Regions from separate parts of the Homo sapiens genome. Here region 2 is linked to region 1. The links come from fine-mapping of genetic effects on gene expression. A gene starts in region 1. The other region holds a variant in brackets. All regions are shown on one strand. Distances are from middle to middle.

What was found.
Region 2: its variant is fine-mapped to the expression of GEM in whole blood (TOPMed, PIP above 0.99).

The regions. Positions count from the first base shown.
Region 1 is chr8:94,260,630-94,263,546 of GRCh38, reverse strand. GEM (GTP binding protein overexpressed in skeletal muscle) reads left to right here and starts at 1,228. Exons shown (of 5, transcript NM_005261.4): 1 at 1,228-1,457. RefSeq lists a silencer at 1,917-1,986.
Region 2 is chr8:94,219,578-94,222,494 of GRCh38, reverse strand. No RefSeq gene overlaps it. Among named protein-coding and RNA genes, the nearest start is that of CDH17, 12 kb to the right of the region's middle. The variant C/G (reference allele first, on the strand shown) is at 1,772.

The DNA.
Region 1 (2,917 bases):
CCGGAGCCACCAGCCAACCCAGAGTTGAAGCTGGCTGGAAAAGCAGATATGTTGGAGAGGCCAGCATCATCTCTAAACACAGCATCTGGGAAATACCCATGTCCCCAGAAAGAGGTCATTGAAATCCTTCACTTGGTGGTGCAGTGCAGAGACTCAGGAAAACCAGGCTTTGAGTCCTGACCCTGCCACTTATACCAGCGGTGTGACCTTGGGCAAATTCTCTGGCCCTATGTTATCTTCCTCCTCCATACAATGAGGGTAGAAATAGAGCCACCTTGCAGAAGTATAGTAAGGATTAAGGTCCCAGGAGGCCTAACAGTACCTACTAAGCAGAGGTCCTCAGAGGTACTTAATAAATGGTAGTAGTAGTTATTATCCTGTGCCCTTTGTTCACAGGAGTCTCTTACAGGGGTGTTGGTCTCAGTGCTCCTCCCCATGGCCAGGCTGTATTGGCTCATGCCCAAGGCGTAGCCTTGCCAGGGAGCCTGGTACAGAGATGCTGCTGATTGGGATGCTGATTAAATTCCCTGATTGAGGAGCCTCAGCATTCTGGCCCAGAGCAGGAGGGCCAGCAATATTTAGCACAATCTGCTTGGATCCTCAATTAAATTGTTTTTCCAAACTGCCCTTTTCAAGGTCTTGTCCTCTTTCCTCACCTCTTTCTGGCCCCTTCTCTCTGGGTCCTTGCCAGAGAAGGGAAACAAAGCCTTGTGGGGCTCCATCTGCTTCCCCCTATCCAGAAGAAGGTGACAAGGCTGTCTTCGTTGCAGAAGATGTGGTTAAAACAAGCCTTGGCTATTCAAGGTGGCTGCAGTCTCATCCTGGAGGCTAAAGTCTCTGCGCATTCCAGGTTGATCTCTGTTTTCTTGGCAAAACTGAGTTCTCAACTCAAACCTGCCTCTCCCTTCCATCCTTTATCCCGACAGCTCGCAAGTGCTTTGCTGGGAAGGACGATTAAGTGTCACTTAGTGTATTTTTCCATTTTCCTGTGTTCATCTGGTAAAAAGAAAATAAAACAAAATAAAGGAGGCCCAGGATTGAACTGTCATTATTTTTTAAATGGAGAGAGAAGGGGTCACATGACTGCGAGTAACTGATTTAGCCAAGTGGCTGCAACTCCGAGTTTGCTGCAGAGCCGCCCCCTCCCGGCGGGGGCGCTGACGTCACGGAAAAGCCCCGCGGCGGGTCGGCTGGGCTGGTTATAAACCGCCCGGCCGCGGCGGCTGCAGGCGGCGGGCAAGGACGGCGGGCACAGCGCAGCACTCCCCGCTCGTTGGCCCGGGTATCCCAGCGCGGACCCACGCGATACGCTGACGCCCCGACGCCGATCCGGCCGAGCCAAGTAAGGGGGACGGCCCGAGACGGAGAAGGGAGAGAGTGGGAGTTTCCCAGCCCGCAGAACTTTCGAAGTTGAGAAAAGAACCCCTGGAACGTGCGCTCAGCACTGGGATTTTCTGGTAGGGGTCAGAGCTTCAAGTGCAAAGGATGTCGCTTCTCATCAGCAGGTTCCTTAGTTCAATTCGGTAGAAGGGTCACCTCCCTCTACAGATCGAGTGGTCAGAGAGGGCAGCCCTTAATGATGCTTTATGTATTTGTTGTTTGAATGTAAGTCTGCCAACTGAGGTGCTGCTTTTGAGACTAAAAAACCGGCTGGTCGTCCTGGTTAGTGGCGAGATGTTGGGGTACGGAGTGTGGGGGTGAGGGTGGGAGAGGAGTGTTTGTGCATCTTGCTGATTGCAACGTAAGTACTTATACTTTATCACCAGTAGCCGGAAAAACAGACCTCCCGGCTAGGGGAGGCAGTCTGCAAAGGGAAAGTTGTAGAGAAGTTGTTGAATATCATTTAGGGGAGTCTTCAGCCTTCTGATTTGCTTCAAGAAGGGGATCTGAGAATGGTGGCTCAGGCCTGTGATCTCAGCACTTTCGGAAGCCGAGGCAGGAGGATCACTTGACCCCAGGAGTTCGAGACCAGCCTGGGCAACATAGTGAGGCCACTGTCTCTACCAAAAAATAAAAATAAAAATAAAAAAACTAGTGGACGTGGTAGTGCAGGTCTGTAGTCCCAGCTACTTGGGAGGCTGAAGTGGAGGATCTCTTGAGCCTGGCAGTTGGAGGCTAGCTACAGTGAGCTATGATCGTGCCACTGCACTCCAGCCTGGGTGACAGAGCAAGACCCTGACTCAAAAAAGGAATCTGAGTTGAATTAAAGAACTCTTGAGAATGGATGTGGTTTTTTAAGAATGAGGCACTTTCTCTGCAAATTTCATAGGTCTGAACATGAGCAGGTCATTTCTCTGCCAGGGTGTCTAGGTTTGGAGCCGGGATGTTTTAAAAGTGGTATCTGTGGGTAAGAGGGCACAGCTGAGGCATAAACTTTAAACAGAAAATTTCCCCCCTACCCCCAATAATGGCAGGTGGATGCTCTCCAGGCAGCTGGAGAGCATCAAGGCAACTTTACTAAACATGGAAGTTCCAATAAGTGCCTGTCCAGTCCAGCCAGGGTTGCAGTGGGCAGGGGAGGGGAGGGTGATGTCATTGCCACGTGTTTCCCACTGAGGCACAAAACCTGCTGGACACTGGTGCAATTAAGAGCCAAGTTTAGACAAGAGCAGCTAACCTGACCAGCTGGTCCCCAGCAACATTAACTTGTTGCTTTTCAAGCCATCTTTGGAGTCTGCTGGTTCTTTCCAGCTGCCTTTGTGCCAGCTCTGAGTGCAGCTCTTCTTTCATCCAAGTCTGCTTTGAGGAAGGGGGAAGCCCATGGGCAGTGGGTGATGTTAACCGTATTTGTTTTCCCATGCAAATGATAGTCTGCCTGAGGAGCTGGTTACTGACAGTGTGGGCAGCATGTGTGTGTCCAGTTGAAAGCCTGTCTTGTTGGGGTTTGGGGGACTGTTTAATTGGTGGTCTTTATGTT
Region 2 (2,917 bases), 41 kb after region 1:
CTGCCCCGTATTTTCATGTTTATAATGTGGTTCCCTGGCATCCACTAAAGGTGGTCAGTGAGTATTTGCTGTCAAGTGTAATTATGATCTCATGGATTTTAACACATTTGATTTGTTTAAATTCATCAAAGTCATTGTTCTTACTTGTTCTCAAATTTTTCCATACTTTCCAAGTGATAGCCACTTAATTTTGGCTTCTAAATGCTTCGAAACAATCACAGTTTTTAGTAAATTCCTTGGTGTCTGGTATGTCAAATGTGCTAGGCACATGTACTTTTCCTGCCCCAGAACTATGGTCAGCAATTTCTCCAAGGAGGCTTGATTCCTTTAAATATCATTTTCCAATGATTTTTCAAAATTATAGGGCCAGGCCCAGCATTTTGGGAGGCTAAGGCAGGCGGATCACTAGGTCAGGAGTTTGAGACTAGCCTGACCAACATGGTGAAACCCCGTCTTTACTAAAAATACAAAAATTAGCTGGGTGTGGTGGCACATGTCTGTAATCCCAGCTACTTGGGAGGCTGAGGCAGGAGAATCACTTGAACCTGGGAGGCGGAGGTTGTGGTGAGCTGAGATTGTGCCACTGCACCCCCCAGCCTGGGCAACAAGAGTGAAACTCTGTCTCAAAAAAAAAAAAAAAAAAAATTATAAGCTGGCTTTAGGGCTGCCCATTGCTTAAGAATTGGTCATTGTTCCCAGCTTTTTTCAGTGGACAGAATTGAAAACACTACTTTAAAGAAAATGCATCGTGAGTTCATACTAATATTTTGAACTTGAATTTAGTATCACAGCGTTTTTTAAAATTTAGCTCCTTTGATTTTATATTTATCTATCTTCTCTCTTCTACCTAAAATCTTGGTTGCAGACAATATTAACATAATTACTTACTTGCCTTACTATATATATTTTAGAATAATTAATATTGATATCATTGCTAAAAGTGTGATTTCTGAAAACAGTGTAAGATTTCTTTTTGTTTTTGTTTTTGTTTTTTGAGACAAAGTCTCGCTCTGTGGTCAGGCTGGAGTGCAGTGGCACAATCTCAGCTCACTGCAACCTCTGCCTCCCGGGTTCAAGCGATCCTCCTGCCTCAGCCTCCCAAGTAGCTGGGACTATAGGCGTGCACCACCACGGCCAGCTAATTTTTTATATTATTAGTAGAGACGAGGTTTCACCATGTTGGCCAGGATGGTCTCAATCTCTTGACTTCATCATCTGCCTGCCTCAGCCTCCCAAATTGCTGGCATTACAGGCATGAGCCACCACGCTTGGACAACAGTCTAAGATTTTTCTAGGTAAATTTTGGTATCTGACTGTGTACTCTTCTAGGTCTCTTATGCTATTCTGGAATCAAATTGATTACCGGAAAGCTATATCCTGGATGGATCTCATTAACTAACACTGCTATGGAAAGTCTTTACTCAGTTGCCCTTTAATGTTCCGTCCTTTGCTTTCATCAAGGGCGGACATAGAAAAATGCCAATACAGAGAATGTCTCCATATCTTCTACACAATCACTGCAAAGAGATTTCCTCTTATATTGTCAACCTGAATGACAGAGAAATGCTTTCTAAAATAAAATATTTATTTGGGTATAGATCATTGCAATGGGAATATGCCTGCCATAGTAAACTATGCATGGATTCAGGGAGGTAAAGAAAGACAAAGGTTTTTAAAGGAAAAAATGAGGAGGATTACATAATTATTTGGAAATGATTATACTTGACCATAAAGATTAATAACAAGGGTGATCCCAATGCAGTTGAACAGG[C/G]AGTTGCTGGGCAGATATCCTTGTAGAAGTATTTTTTGTGTAAGGTTGCAGTGGCCATTGTGCAAGATTGTGGTTTTTGAGGCTTTTGTGATAGTTTTGTTATTAGGCATACAAGCATGAGAACCTGTCTTCATGGTCTTCCACAGGCCTATTTGTCAGGGTTTGTTTTGATTTTTAACAGTGCCAACTCCATTTTGATTCTGGCAATTTCACAATTGTTAGGTGAATCTAGAATTGGTTTGATTTGATCCAGATACAATGCTTTCGGCAAGAATCCTTCCTAAGTAGCATTTCATATCTAGGAGGAGGCACACAATGACCAGCTGTCTCTCTTTCTGTGAGGTAGCAGCCATGGATGACCCTTGCCTAGACTTACTTCCATAGAGGTTTGTGAAATGATAATATTTTAATTTTATTGCCCTCTCTTCGTTTATTAGCTGGAGGATTTCTAGAAGAGAAACTTTTCCTCATGATCCACAGCCCATGGCAAACATGATTGAAGCCTGGAAAAGCTAAGGAAAGTGATCACCAGTTGCCTTCCCCAATCTTAGGAGAAACTTAGTGACTCCAGGCAGCGTCTGAAATGGAGACCAATGTATTTAGACAGTGCCGTCTGGGGGAATTTATGTAAATATGCCGCAGAGGGATAAGAGCATAAGAGTTAATAGGGCTGGTTTAACATTGCCTACTTGAATATTAGAGTTTGCCCCAAGCAACGATTTTAGTTTTGGCATAAATTCTTCCAATTCTTTTTTAGACTGTTGTAAAACAGAGTCAGTTACCTACGAAGGCCTCTTCTGGTTGGTAGCAGTAAAGCCACCACAAGGGCAAGTGATGAGAGAAGGGCATGGCCACGGTGTCGGGGTAGAGGTGGTGACTAGGACATCGCATAGATTAGGAACAGCCTTCACAGTGGCAACGGTTGTGAGTCAGCATGCCTGATTCAAATCCTGGCTTTGTCACCTGCCAGCTATGTGAACTTGAGCAAGATATTTGACTTCCCTGAGCCTCAGATTCCTCAACTGTAAATGGGGATTGGCGATTTGACTTGCCTTTCAGATTTGTGCACATTAGAGATAACATAAGCCAAACACTTTGCCCAGTGCCTGGCACAGAACAGACGTCAGCTAACTAGAGGTCACAAAG